2 linked regions of the Homo sapiens genome follow. Changing the gene in region 2 together with the main gene of any one other region gives a genetic interaction. Each region holds a gene or a part of one and is shown on either strand. Other genes may lie near its edges. The genes, in order: GBF1 and DNAJC16.

Region 1 (7,275 bases), on a different chromosome or scaffold from region 2:
CTCACAGCAGCCTCAAACTCCTGGGCGCAAGTGATCCTCCTGTCTCAGCCTCCAGAGTAGCTGGAACTACAGGCATGCACCACCATGCCCAGCTCATGTTGCCCTTTTATAACCACACCCACCTCCTCCTTCCTGCCCCCATCCCTAATCCTTAGCAATCTGTCTTCAAATTCTTTTTTTTTTTGAGATGGAGTCTTACTCTGTTGCCCAGGCTAGAGTGCAGGCAGGATCTCAGCTCACTGCAACCTCTGCTTCCCATGTTCAAGTGATTCTCCTGCCTCAGCCTCCCAAGTAGATGGGATTACAGGTGCGAGCCACCACGCCTGGCTAATTTTTGTATTTTTAGTAGAGATGGGGTTTCACCATGTTGGCCAGGCTGGTCTCGAACTCCTGACCTCAAGTGATTCACCAGCCTCAGTTTCCCAAAGTGCTGGGATTACAGGTGTGAGCCACTGCGCCCAGCCTGTCTTCAAATTCTAAAGTTCTGTCATTTCAAAAATGTTATATAAGTGGAATTATATATTACATAACCTTTTTAGATTGGCTTTTCTTTCACTCAGCATAGTTCCCTGGAGATGTCTGTTGCTTTAAATTGCTGAATAGTATTCCATGGTGTGTATGTACCACAGTTTATTCACCTATTGAAAGTCATCTGGGCCGATTCCAGTTTTTGGCTATTACAACTAAGGCTTCTATAAACATTCATGTACAGGTTTTTATGAGAAAGTAAGCTTTCACTTTTCTGGGATAAATGTCCAAGGGTGCAATTGCTGGGTTGTATGGTAATTATATGTTTCATTTTATAAGAAACTGCCAGCAGAGTAGCTGTACCATTTTACATTCCCACCCAGCAATATATGAATGACCCAGTTTCTCCACGTCCTTTCAGCATTTGGTATTGTCACTACTTTTTATTTCAGCCATTCTGAAAAGTGGGTAGTGATGTCTCATTGTGTTTTTATTTTTTGGAGTCTTGCTCTGTCACCCAGGCAGGAGTGCAGTGGCACGATCTCAGCTCACTGCAACCTCCTGCGTTCAAGCGATCCTCCCACCTCAATCTCCTCAGTAGGTGAGACTACAGGTGTGTGTGACCACGCCCAGCTAATTTTTGTATTTATTGGTAGAGACATGGTTTCACCATGTTGGCCAGGCTGGGCTCAAACTCCTGACCTCAGGTGATCCACCCACCTCAGCCTCCCAAAGTGCTGGGCTTACAGGTGTGAGCCTCATTGTGGTTTTAGTTTGCAGTACTCTGATGGTTAATGATGCTATCTTCATTTCATGTGCCTATCTGCCATCTGTATGTGTTCTTTGGTGAAACATCTGTTCCTATGTTTTGTCCATTTTCTATTAATAATTGGATTGTTTTATCACTGTTGTGTTTTGAGAGTTTTTATATTACAGATACCTTTCTTCAAATATGTGATTTGCAAATATTTCCTCCTCGTCTACAGCTTGTCTTTTCATCCTCTTCACATAGGCTCTCATAGAACAAAACTTTTAAAAATATTAATGTAGCCCAACTTATCAATTTTTCCTTTTCTAGATTGTGCTTTTAATGTCAAGTCTAAAAATTATTACTTTTTTTGAAAGAGAGTCTCCCCCGGATCTGTTCCATCCAGACAGTGTTGAGGCAAGAGACAGATCCACAGGACTGCCAAACATGCTAAAAATTCTTTGCTTAGCTCTAGATCCTGAAGATTTTCTCCTGTTTCTAAAGTTTTTATAGCTTTACATTTAAATCTATGATCCATTGGAGTTAATTTTCCTGTAAGGTATGAGGTTTAGGTCAAGGTTCATTTGGTTTTTCCTCCTATGGATTTTAATCACTCCACCACTTATTGAAAAGGCTATTCCTCCTCCACTGAATTGTTCTTACATCTTGGTCAAAAAATCCACTGAACATATTTGTGTTGAGCTTATTTCTGGTCTCTCTATTCTTTTCCATTGATCTACGTGTCTGTCCCTCCATCGACACCACATAATCTTGACTACTATAGCTATACAGTAAGTCTTTTTTTTGAGACAGAGTTTCGCTGTCCAGGCTGGAGTGCAATGGTGTGATCTTGGCTTACTACAACCTCTGCCTCCCAGGTTCAAGTGATTCTCCTGCCTCAGCCTCCTGAGTAGCTGGGATTACAGGCATGCCCCACCATGCCTGGCTAATTCTGTATTTTTAGTAGAGACGAGGTTTCTCCATGTTGGTCAGGCTGGTCTCGAACTCCCAACCTCAGGTGATTGCCTGCCTTGGCCTCACAAAGTGTTGGGATTACAGACGTGAGCCACTGTGTCCAGCCGAGAGTAAGTCTTTTTTTTTTTTTGAGATGGAGTCTCGCTGTGTTGCCCAGGCTGGAGTGCAGTGGCGCAATCTTGGCTCACTGCAACCTCCGCCTCCCAGGTTCAAGCGATTCTCCTGCCTCAGCCTCCCGAGTAGCAATCAGGCGCTCACCATCACGCCCAGCTAATTTTTCTATTTTTAGTAGAGACGGGGTTTCACCACGTTAGTCAGGCTGGTCTTGATCTCCTGACCTCGTGATCCACCCGCCTCAGCCCCCCAAAGTGGACAGTAAGTCTTAATACCAGAGTGATTCTTTTTTTTTTTTTTTGAGACAGAATCTCACTCTGTCACCCAGCTGGAGTGCAGTGGCGCGATCTCAGCTCACTGCAACCTCCGCCTTGAGTTCAAGCGATTCTCCTGCCTCAGCCTCCCAAGTAGCTAGGATTACAGGTGTGTGCCACCACACCCTGCTAATTTTTGTGTTTTTAGTAGAGATGGGGTTTCACCATGTTGGCCAGGCTGGCCTTGAACTCCTGACCTCAAGTGATCTGCCCGCTGTGGCCTCCCGCAGTGCTGAGATTACAGGCATGAACCACAGCAACCGGCCCAGAGAGAGTGATTCTTTCCACTTTATTCTTTCTAGCTATTCTAGAGCTTGTGCCTTTCCATCTAAATTTTAGAATAAGCTTACCTATGTCTACAAGAACCTTTCTGGGATTTTTATAGGAGTTATGTTGAATTTACAGATCAATTTGGGGAGAAGTGACAAAGTTACTATGTTGAGCCTTCCAATCCATGAACATAGTATGCCTCTTCATTTATTTACATCTTCTTCAATTTATTTTGTAGTTTTGTAGTTTTCATCATACAAATCTTATACATGTTTTGTCAGCTATATATTAAGTATTTCACTTTATTTGGAACCCTTGTAAATGGTATTGTATTTTAAATTTCAGTTTCCATATTGTTCATTGTTAGCATGTAGAGATATAATTACTTTTTGTGTATTGATCTCACATCCTGTGACCTTGTTGAATCCACTTATTAGTTCTATGCTTGTTGTTTTTTGTAGTTAAGCAAAGAGATCTCAAGAGGGTCATAAGCATGACAGGAAACCAGGTATAGGGCTGAGACTATTATAAGGCAGTAGCAGGCCAGTCCTACAAAGCAGATTCATAGGAGGCTGAGGTGCCAAACACAAGCTCCATGCCTGAGGCCATTCCAGGCTCACTCCCAGTACCACCCGCTAGACTGCACCAGCCCTGTGGTTGGTCACTGGACTCATGCTATGGGGCACTAAATGTACTCTCTGTCTCAGGCCATATTCATAATTGACAACTGTGGCCTTAATCCCTTGCATACCTGCCCACTCTCCAAGATGCATTCTGCTTACCTGAGCACTGATCTCTTCTCTCCGGAGAAGCCGAATGGCCAGGCGTAGCAACCCCACCACTGCCCGCTCCACAAGGAAGCAGAAATCTTGTGCCTGAACACAGAGGTGGTATAGATGGTCTCGAACAGTCTGCCACACACAGCCCACACGATCCCTGTGTAGACATAAAGGAATGAAGATAGTCTCAGCCAGAGGGGCCACTGGGCAACAGGTCCCCTAGGCCTTTCAGGACTCATTGGTATTATACCCTAAGTAGACAGGTATGATGAGTAAGCTTCTCCCCTGCTGCCTACAGTTCCCCAGAGCCCACTCAGCAAGATGGCTTCCATCCCTTTGGCACAAGCCCAGCATGGGGTCTGCCTAAAGACTACGCTCATCTTACCTGTTCTCCAACACAATCCTTAGCAGCATCTCTAGGCAGAAAGCAGCATCTTCCTCATCATATGTCTCTTCATCTGGTGTCACTGAGACCAGAGCCTGAAGGGGAACAGCAGCAGGAAAGTAGGCATGGAAAAGAAGCCAACCACTGGCCCTGCCCTGACAGAAATAATACTGTCCCTGTCACCCCTCCCAGATTCAGCCAGTTGTTCCATGTTTCCTTTCTTCATCCTTTACCTTCATGAGCTCCTGTAGTGACTCCAGCTGGAGGAACTTGCTTTCTGTGATCATTTTTTCTGGGTCACATTGCTAGAGAGGGCAAAAGAGAGAGGGGGTCTTTGACAAAGGCTGAAGAGAACAGAATGTCCCCAAGAGCCAGGGGGAGAGGGCAGAGTCAGCCCTGGTTACAAATCCTGGATGATTTATTCTTCAGTTCACCAAGTAGCATCTAATAGGAAGGTGTTTAGGCTTTCTCACCAGGGGTGGATGGGCAGTTACCTTTATACACTCTAAGGCCACTCTCTTGGCCTCTTGGTTTTCAGTGGATGGGCCCCGAACACTAGACTGCTCAGGACCACTCAGTGTTAGCCAGCTCACAAAGCTCAGCACTGTTGACTCTCCTCTGTAGAAAAAGGGCACATGGCCTGGTGAGCCCCAAAGTTCTGACTCTCCCTCCCCAAGCCCCTGAGCCTCTGGTCTGCTCTTACCGGTTTGATGGTGTCTCTTCCCGCTGTAGAGAGATCTTGCCATTGGGATCCACGAAATCTTCTACCTGGAAAAGTAAGTCAAAATAATTTCTTTCCATGTGTCCTTTGCATTTGTGCCCGCCTCCACCCACCAAAGTTCTCTGGATTTCCTCCTCTAGTCTTCTGCCCCTATGCTATTGTGCCAATTGGTGACTGGCAATGGCATCTACCAGCCTTCTTTTACAGCTATCCCCCAAGATCTGTGGTCTTACATTTGAGGCATTCCTGGTGAGCTGTGGCAGGCATCAGGCCCAACATTACTCTCAACCACTTACTTCTATGTACAGGTAGCATACAATGTTGCAGCTCTTGCCTTGTTATCGCTCACTAGTCTCCTACTAAGAATTACCTCTATCATAGCCTTGGGCAGTAGTTGGGCTCGGAAGAGCTGCAGCATGGCCTCCATGATATTCTTCCAGCCCTCCCGCAGGATGTCACCATGACGATGGGCCAAATGGAATACTGTCTTGGCTGCAATATGGGCTTTAGGGTTGCTTCCAAATACACTGGGCAGGTTCTCAATAGACTGGAAAAGAGGAAGAGAACAGACTTAAGGCCGAGCTAATGTCTGGAAAGGAAAATCTCTTAGGTCTCTGCCTATGATGGTTCCCTCAGGTCCTTTTGTTGGCTCTGCTTCAATCCCCCATAATACTGGTGGGAGTGGGTTAACCTAGTTAAGGCCTTCCCCACTCCTGTATCTCCTTTCCCATCCCCATTACATGAAGTAACACTAGTTTTATCCCAGAGTGTGCAAGACAGAAATGGCCTAAGCTCTGGTATATTCAAGTGGGGGCAGTGAGGGAAGACGCTGAGGGCAACCAGGTCTGTTGATAAGGGTAGATCCATGGCTAAAAGAGAGGTCCTCCTTTGGAGCTCCAAGTACACAGTTCCTGCACCTGCTCACCTCACTGCTGAGAGCTGTGAATTTGCATAGAGAGATGATGAGATTGTCAAACACATCGCTGAGGCCATAGTGGGCGGAGATCATGGCGCACTTCCTGTAATGTTACCCCCCATCCCAGAAACAGAGTCACTGGAAGGCCAAGCAGCCCTTCCAAGTCCCTGAGCTTGCATGGGGCTCTTCCCCAGTCAGTCCCAGGAAGAAACCTTTTAATTTTGTTTCTGTTTAAGACTGAGCCTACCCAAGCTTCAGCCTCCCTCCAAAAACTCAGGGGGAACCCCATTCTAATGAAGTAACAGTAGGAGTCAGAGAGGCATGGAGAAAACCATGTTAGCTCACAGAGCTAGTGGGAGGTGAAGACCAAGGCCAAAGCTGGGCTACCTGAAGCCTGAGATGGCTTTCTGGATGATTGTCTCCTCAAGGCTTTTGTCAAAGACATAAGAGAGAGCAGCAATAGTGGGGCCCCAGGTCATGGTGAAGAGGTCAAGATCATAGCTGGCAGTAGGCACACGCAGGAATATGCCCTCAGGGGTGGCACCTCGATGAAGCAGCACATTCCACACATAGTTCTCCCGAACCAAGCCTGTCTGCTCCTCAGGCATTACAATTTCCTCATTCCTGTCAGGAGGTAAGGGAAGGAGCAGTTGCACTGCTTTGAACCTGACTAGTTCCAAACCAAGACTAGGAGTTCATCCATACTAGCACTCTCCACTGATGAGAGGTCATCAGAACTGCAGCTCAGTGGTCTGCTTTCCACCCACCAGTGGGAGCAGACAGAAAGAAAGGAAGTGTCCCATAATCTCAAAGCCCTATCTGTAAGTGAGGCCTTTAGTTCTATAGTAAGATCACACATTCTTACTAGGTGTGATAAAATGAACAATTCTACCTTTTCTGATTTACAGTAAAAAACTAAGTGGCCCATTTCTGACCTGTAACCTGGGCCTCACACTCCAGTGCCCATCTTGGGTTCTCTACCAGCCAGCATCTTGTAATCTATACAGGAAAATGTACCTGTTTTAAGTTCAGAAAATGGGGCCATGATATCCTACTTAAGAGCAGCACTTTGGACCCTGGCTTAGAGTACTAGAGTCCCAATATCATTTGGGCTTCTTTAAGGAAGAAACAGTTGGCAGAGAGGGGGCTGCCCAACTAAGTCCTGAGGCTAAATCCAGGGCATGTGAGTCACTGCAGTCTGACATGACTCTAAAAACTGGGAAAGGAAGCAATGTGCTTCTTCTTAACAGAGATACTGCACTATTCTCTATGTATACTCACTTGATGGCATGGTACATGTCCTCCAGGATGTCTTGCTCAAAGTCCTTGCCTCCATTCACACCTTTCAGATTTTTGCGAAACTCCTAGAGACAGGCCAGTAAGTTTTTTCCCCTTGTGTCAACACTGAAGCCCCACCTAAGGAACTCCTGGGTTTTCAGTAAATAGGACTTAGGAAAAGGTAAGCGAAAAAACCCACTTCCCCACCCCAGTCCCTTTTCTAGGTTGGCCAGCCCTTCCTGATTCCCTTGGACAGAACCCCATCCATCATGCCCACTGGAAATCCTATGTCCTTCCTGCTACCTCC
Region 2 (7,441 bases):
CCAAAATATAATATTTTCTATTTTGAAATATTCAAAAATATTTTTAAAAAATTGCATTGTACTGAACATGTACAGACTTTTTTCTTGTCATTATTCCTTAAACAATAACAGTATAACAACCATTTGCACAGCAGTTACATTGTATTAGGTATTATAAGTAAGCTAGAGATGATTTAAAGTATATGAGAGGACGTGCATAGATTATATGCAAATACTATGCTATTTTATATAGGGACTTGAGCATCCAATGACTTTGGTATTTCTGGGGATCCTGGAACCAAGACCTCATGGATATCAAGAGACAACTATCCTTGGTTTCTGAATTTTTTTTTTTGGAGGCAAAAGGCTATTACTCTTAACTTTTTTTCAAAGTGTAGAAATTAATAATTTAGAGAATAGGGTTGTATAGTGTTCCTGTTTAGCAATTACACTCATAAAGTTACTTTATGAATAATGTATCATGGGAAGGGTAGCATATCCATTATTGACTATATATACATTTTTTTAAAATTAAAACTTGTTACTTTAACATTAAATATGCTAACAGTATCTAAGGCAATTCTTTAAGCCAAAGTATTCCTAAAAGGGAGTTTCAGAGTAAACATAGGCTTTGGATCTTATCGCTAACAATTATAGAACATGAACATTAGCTCTCCTGCGTAAAATATTTTAGACAGATATATATATTGAACATAGAAACAGAGACAAATAAAAGCTAGTCATAATTTAGACTTCATCCCTGCTAAGACTGTTTAGCTTATGTTAAACCTCTATTTCTTTGTTTCACCTACCATTCCCGGGCGAGCTTCTTATAAGCCTTTTTAATATCAGCCTGACTGGCTGTTCGGCTGACCCCTAGGACTCTGTATGGGTCAAAATCCAACGCAGACAGAATTTGCAGGATCAGAACCAGAACTATCAAGAACTGCCAGGAAATGCTCAACTTTCTCACTTCCATTTCTCTTCCTTTCCAGAGCTGAAATGATTGAAGAGGCAATGAGTTTCAGTGGCAGAAACCTGGACAGTCTTGCTTTTTAGGTAAAGGTATAAGATATATAGATGAAAAACAAAACCAACAAAAGGTATTTTGCAGGAAAAGTGTCAAGCTGTTGAACTGTATCTTAAAATAAAAATCTCGCTACTGCTTTTGAATATCACAAATGAGAACTATTACAGATGAAAAGATGAGTAATAAGAATAGCAACTCTCCAGAACACTTTGACTAGAAAAGCTTTAGAAATGAATGAAAATGAATGGGATGCAGAAATAATACATAAATGAGAGAAAACCTAAATAGGATAATCAGGACGACTACCTCTCAAATACATGATTTCATTTATTCTGATAAGAATAAATAAAATAAATGGTTTAAGAATACTTCATTGAGTACATGTTAAACAAACTCATGAAACTGTAAGATTTACCATGTACAAAACTACAAAATGAGATAGTTGTGGCATTCTTGGGCATTAAATAAGTACAAACATGGACGTGAAACACTCTCAAAAAACTGTGTAGTTAAGACGCAGTATGCCTCAATTCTATTCTTTCTCACCACACCATTCAAACAAGAAAATGAGAAGCTGCTCTTTAATCATTAGTAATATGGTGTTTTTTTGTTTTTTTTTTTTGAGACGGAGTTTCACTCGTTGCCCAGGCTGGAGTGCAATGATGGGATCTCAGCTCACTGCAACCTCCCCCTCCCAGGTTCAAGCAAGTCTCCTGTCTCAGCCTCCCCAGTAGCTGGGATTACAGGCATGCGCCACCCTGCCTAGCTAATTTTTTGTATTTTTAGTAGAGACAGGGTTTCACCATGTTGGCCAGGCTGGTTTTGAACTCCTGACCTCAGGTGATCCACCCGCCTCGGCCTCCCAAAGTGTTGGGATTACAGGCGTGAGCCATCGCGCCGGCCAATATGGTCATTATTAATGGAAACCTCAGATGAGAAAAAGCGGCAAGAAAAAATTTAGTTTTACATGTGAAGAAGAATTAACGGCAAAGACCAAATAGCAGGCGTGGTCTTTAAAAGTTTCAAGCTCCATCTCTGGTGAGTACAGTGACTTAATTCATTGTGAATTTTGGAAATAATCCTGGCTGGTTAATGAACAGGGTAGTGCTGGAACTGCAGATATTTATACTCCACAATTATGATTGCTGTTATACCCTACAATGTTTTTTTTCAAGGAACACATTTATCTTGATTTCTCACAAGTTAATACAGTTTTAAGGTTCAAGTGTCTTCTGTGACACCTTACTGAAGAAGGGCAAAGCTATAACAGTGGTGGATTTCCGTAAGTGCAAGTTTAATGCCGCCTGGGAGTCCTCACAAAATTGACTAATCTGATGACCAACGTTTAAAATTGCATACGTGCTGAATAAAATCCTAAAACAAACCAGTTTCTTCTTTGTTAAGGCAACCTATTATATCCTAGAAAACACGTGAAGGCAATGTAGCTACTGGTTAAGCATATGGGTTGAAGACTAGGATCTATTCTCCACTACTTTATTACCTTGGGCAAATTATTTAAACTTACTAAGCATCAGCGTCCTTATTCATAAAATGGGAATGAATACTACCACCTTGAAGGATCATCATGTGGGGACTAAATGCATGTAAAGGGTTTACTGAGCCCAGAGTCAACAGTCAACAAATGGTCGTTAGTGCTATTATTTCTACCATGCAGTACGATCGCTGCCTTATTTAACCATGTCAGTTCCTTCCAGCTAGAGGGCCGAAGTGGCGGTGGTCTGGGAAGTTCTTTAGCTGACATGCGAGATAGACGGCGCCGACCTCGGAGCAGCAAACACCTGCCCAACAGGTAGGCTGCCAGCTCTCTGGGCAGCATATCCAGGACCAGGAAGAAGCTCCCAGAGACAAGCTCCAGGTCTAAGCCCCGCCTCGCGCTCCTGCCGGAGGTCGCAACCCTGCAGGAGACAGCCCCCTCCCCCGCCGCCCTCCGAGAGCCCAGGGCCCGGCCCTGTTGGCTCCCGGCTCCCCCCGGGGCCAGCAGTGACTGGAAACGAGAAGGAACTGAGGGGAAATCCCTGAGTCGGCCTGGCCCCGCCGCGTCCGCGGTTCCGCGCGTCACGCCGGGAAGGAGTTACCGGGAAAGTACACCGGCCCAACCGGCTGCAGCTCCGTGCTCCAGTTAGTTCGCCGGGCCGGGAGCTTCCCGTCCACACCAGCGCTCGCCTGGGCCTGGGGAGGGGAAAGAGGAGGGGACAAGCCCGAGGGGAGTCACGTGACGCTTAAAGGTCTATCGCACTGAAGGCGAGGACCGAACAGGTCGAGGGCGTCTACTGGGCGAATCTATTTTGACCCTTGCCACTCGCCGTCTAGGCGTGGACCTGGGGTGGTTGCTATAGAAACGAGGCGCGCTCTTTGGTTGCAGCCAAAAGGCTGATCGTGACCAAAGAGGCCAAAACGTGCCTCCTAGCGAGGCGAAGTCGCTATGCATGATGGGATACCAGAAGGACCTCCTCGATCCAGGAAGGTGTTTCCGCTCCTACCGGGAGATGGCCCTCGTCTAGCAACAGTTGCTAGGATGGGGACGCACTCTCTGGTCCCTATTCTCTTTAACCCTATTCGTAGAACCTTAGAGCGTCAGATTGGAAGTGACCTTAGGGATTCTTTAACTCTCCAACTCCTGCAATATTGATAGGGAGACCGAGGTCCAGAGAGGGGCAGAGATTTGCCCAAGGCCTAGAATCCAGCATTCCTTTTATTTTTGTTTACTTATCTTTTTTTTTTTTGAGAGAATCCAGGACTTTTAATCCCGTTTACCGAAAACCGAGCTCCACCCAAGAATGTACCAGTCTGTGCCTTAAGCACGGGGAAAGGGCGGTGGGGGTGGAGAGAGGGATAAGGCACAGGTAAGTGAAGGAAACTTTCTTTGAGCCAATGAGATAGATCCCTTGCGGATATAAAGAGCTTTCATATCTCCCTGTCTTGTTTTTATTTTTTTCTCTTTGCATTTATCACTATCTAACATAGTATGTCTTATTTATTGATATAGTTTATCACCTGATCCTTCCACTGGAATGTAAACTCTAAAAGCAGGGATTTTGTTTTGTTCACCTTCATGTTCTTAGTGTTTGACTACAGGCTCAATAAATATTCGTAGAAGTGAACGAATGGGGCTGAGGTTTTGGTGCTCAAGAGATTATATTCTAAGGTGGATTCTTAAGAGTGTGGCTTACAGAGTCAGGTTCGGGTTTCAATCCTGCCTGCCTCGGCCACTTAGTACCCAAGTGACCTTAAACATTCGTTTCCCTGAACCCTAGGGTCTACATCTGTAAAACCGGCGGGGGGTGGGAATACTTTCCTGGCAGGATTGTAGTTAAGGATAAGTGAAATAAGCATGAAAAGTGGCTAGCACGATGCCTGGGACTTAGCAAATGCTCAGTAAACAGAAACGATTATTTTTGAAATGTGAAAATGAACCGTTCAGAACGATGGGAGTTTACAGGACTAGATTTCTGCCGTTTTTTTTTTTTTCTGTGTGGGAGGTGTTAGGGTGGGAGGGAGGGAAGAGGGAATGGAAGACTGTGTAAGGTGGGCTTGGTTGGATCAGACACTCGAGTTTGGAACAGTCAACTGCGATCTGGGCACAAGGGCGGTGAGGGGAGCTTATGGTTTTACTTGGGGTGGAGGAGGGGGCTAAGGGGAAGCCATGCCCCGGAGGAGGTTGAATGGGCGGGACAGATCACGGCTCCACTCATGGTTTCCCTCTTGCTGGAAGTGTGACGACTCCCTCCGGATCTCTGTAAAAGCGGGGCTATAGTGAATTCTGGCGAAGGGCCCGCGGTGGACCAGGAACTGGTGCCAGAATTGCAAAAGGGCACCTGCGCCCGGAGTGGGGAGGTGATGCGGGGGCGGGGCGGGGCCCTGGGGGCGGGGCGAGTCGCGGAGGTGCCGCCTTGGGGCGGGGCGGTGACAGAAGGATGGATCCTGGGGGTGAGGATTGACTTTGGGGGCGGGGCGAGAGTGCGAACTGGAGTCTGAGGCTGAGCGGTGACGCAAGGACGATTCTGAGGGTGGAGCGAGGGGAGGGGATTGGCTCTTGGAGGCGGGGCGGTGGCACGAGGCTAGCCCTTGGGGGCGGGGCGGTGGCGCAAGATTGACCTTGGGGGCGGGGTGGGGGCGTGGGTTGAATCCTGGGGGCGGGGCGGTGGCGCGGAATGGATTCTGGGGTCGGCGCGAGGCGCTGAGGTGCGTCCTGAGGGCGGGGCGATGACGCAGAGCGAATCCTGGGGGCGGGGCGAGACCTTCTAGATGCGTCCCGGGGAGTGGGCGGTGACGCGGTGGCAGGTTCTGGGGACAGGCGGTGACCCCAGAATTGACCCTGGGGACAGGGCGAGGCGCGGAGGCGTCCTGAAGGCGAGGCGGTGACGCAAGAGCGAATCCTTGGGGCGGGGCGAGGCGTTGGAGATGCGTCCTGCGGGCGGGACGGTAACGCGGGGGCGGGGCGGTGACGTGAGGTCAGTGCGGGGATACGGGGCGGGTTCTGGGGCGGGGACGCAGTGGTGGATTCTGGAGCGGGGCGGTGACGTGGGGCGGGTTCTGGGGCGGGGCGGTGACGCGGAGCGTGTTCTGGGGCGGCGCGGTGATGGGAGGCTTGGCCCTGGGGGCGGGGCGAGGCGCAGAGGTGCGTCCTGAGGGCGGGGCGGTGACGCAAGAGCGACTCCTGGGGGCGGGGCGAGGCCTTGGAGATGCGTCCGGAGGCGGTGGGGAGCGAAGACTGACCCGGGGCCGTGACGCGGGGGCAGGCCCTGGGGCGGGGGCGGGTCCTGGGGACTGGGGCGGGCGGCCGAGGCCCGGAAGCGGACTGAGGCGGCCTGGAGTCTTAGTTGGCTACTCGCCATGGACGAAGCGGATCGGCGGCTCCTGCGGCGGTGCCGGCTGCGGCTGGTGGAAGAGCTGCAGGTGGACCAGCTCTGGGACGCCCTGCTGAGCCGCGAGCTGTTCAGGCCCCATATGATCGAGGACATCCAGGTGCGCCCCCGGCCCCCTGTCCCCGCGCTGCACGGCCGGGTCCCCACGCCCCTCGAGGAGGCGTTGTGCGGGAGCCTAGCCTTCCCTGTGGCTTCAAACCCCTCAGCGGAGCCAAAGAATCCCAAACACCTCTTAGTCGGGTGTTCGCTAAAGCGATTCCATGCCATACTCAGTCAGCGTACACTGTTAGTGCTTGTGTTTCTTGTGTAAAGGAAAAATGTGAGACACATCTTGAGAACTTTGAATAAGAAACAATTCATGAATTGGAGAACATCAGACTGAAAGAGCTTTAGTGTTGCAATGACAAAACGTCAGAGGCAAGTATTTATTGGGAAAATGTGGAAGCAAAATAAAGAAATTATTTGATTGGTTTGCAGTTACAAAATTGCCTTTTTTTTTTAAGGTCTGTTAATTGACTGCTTTTGGCTGGTCTTAAGTTTTATTTCTCTCTAACATAAGCATTTATCAGATATGACCCAAGTTAAATTTTGCTTATGTTTGCAGTTTAAGCAAGATTTAGGTCACTTAGGATACCTGATTGGTTTTGTCTGCTCAGGAATTCTTCATGGTTGGTCTCCATTTTAATTTACGTTAATACTTGCGAGGAAGGAGGCGTGTGCGTTTTTACTTTTCTAGCATAGAGGTTTCGGGAACCCACTTTGGCATCAGGCTGCCTGGCAGCGTGTTCTTGGGCCAGTCACTTACCCTCTTTGAGCCACAGTTTCTGGGCTGTGAAATGGGAATAAGAATAATACTGTCATAAGGACTAAATGAAATAACGGATGTGAAACTGTAGTGCTAGGCACAGAGCGGGGGATCAGCGTACCCTGCCCTCTTTGGCCAGCCCCTTCTGTGTTCAGTTTATGTTTTGTTAAGAGGTTTTGGAAATGAGGGGACCTGATGCAGAATGGAGAATAATGAAGTCAAACATTTGAGGTTTTGTTTAAAAGCACTTTCCCATCTTTGTCTCATTTGACCCTCATCACAGGCCTGTGAGGATGCAGGAGATATTTCCTACCATGAGGTGCAGTAGGTGTGAGTGGCTGGCTGGATATCCCTGGCCAGTGCCCTGGCCCAGGGAAAGAGTCTTTAAATAATTGAGTATCATATGAGTAATTATTCATTAATAATAAAATAAGTTTTGTGCCTTCTGTGTGGCCCCTACTGGGGAACAGTAATGGTTTGAGGCCACAGTCCTTGCCTTCAGGAATGTTCACGGGGATCACAAACTCAAATGCCCATGGAGGACCAATGGATGGGCGTCATAGTGGATAGCCTTTGCACTGCCCTCCGTCTCCAGCTGAGTATGGCCATATCAACAAATGGCCCAGTATTGCCACATCTTACACTTATTTTGAGGCAGGGTCTCACTCTTGCCCAGCCTGGAGTGCAGGGATGAGATCATGGCTCACTGCGACCTTGACCTCCTGGGCTTAAGTGGTCTTC

The links.
Region 1: changes in DNAJC16 (region 2) and GBF1 together harm fitness more than expected from each alone (negative genetic interaction), as found in Homo sapiens cells (one study listed by BioGRID).

The regions. Positions count from the first base shown.
Region 1 is NC_000010.11:102,367,257-102,374,531, reverse strand, and holds part of GBF1 (Golgi-specific brefeldin A-resistance guanine nucleotide exchange factor 1), read right to left. Parts: intron 7,055-7,275; coding exon 6,972-7,054; intron 6,315-6,971; coding exon 6,078-6,314; intron 5,794-6,077; coding exon 5,700-5,793; intron 5,322-5,699; coding exon 5,145-5,321; intron 4,822-5,144; coding exon 4,757-4,821; intron 4,672-4,756; coding exon 4,548-4,671; intron 4,359-4,547; coding exon 4,287-4,358; intron 4,149-4,286; coding exon 4,054-4,148; intron 3,826-4,053; coding exon 3,672-3,825; intron 1-3,671. UniProt on the Homo sapiens protein: Guanine-nucleotide exchange factor (GEF) for members of the Arf family of small GTPases involved in trafficking in the early secretory pathway; its GEF activity initiates the coating of nascent vesicles via the localized generation of activated ARFs through replacement of GDP with GTP.
Region 2 is NC_000001.11:15,522,623-15,530,063, reverse strand, and holds the start of DNAJC16 (dnaJ homolog subfamily C member 16 isoform 1 precursor), read right to left. Parts: upstream 3,217-7,441; 5' UTR 3,106-3,216; intron 977-3,105; 5' UTR 959-976; coding exon 792-958; intron 1-791. Other genes in the region: CASP9 (caspase-9), read left to right, coding at 5,864-5,995. UniProt on the Homo sapiens protein: Plays an important role in regulating the size of autophagosomes during the formation process.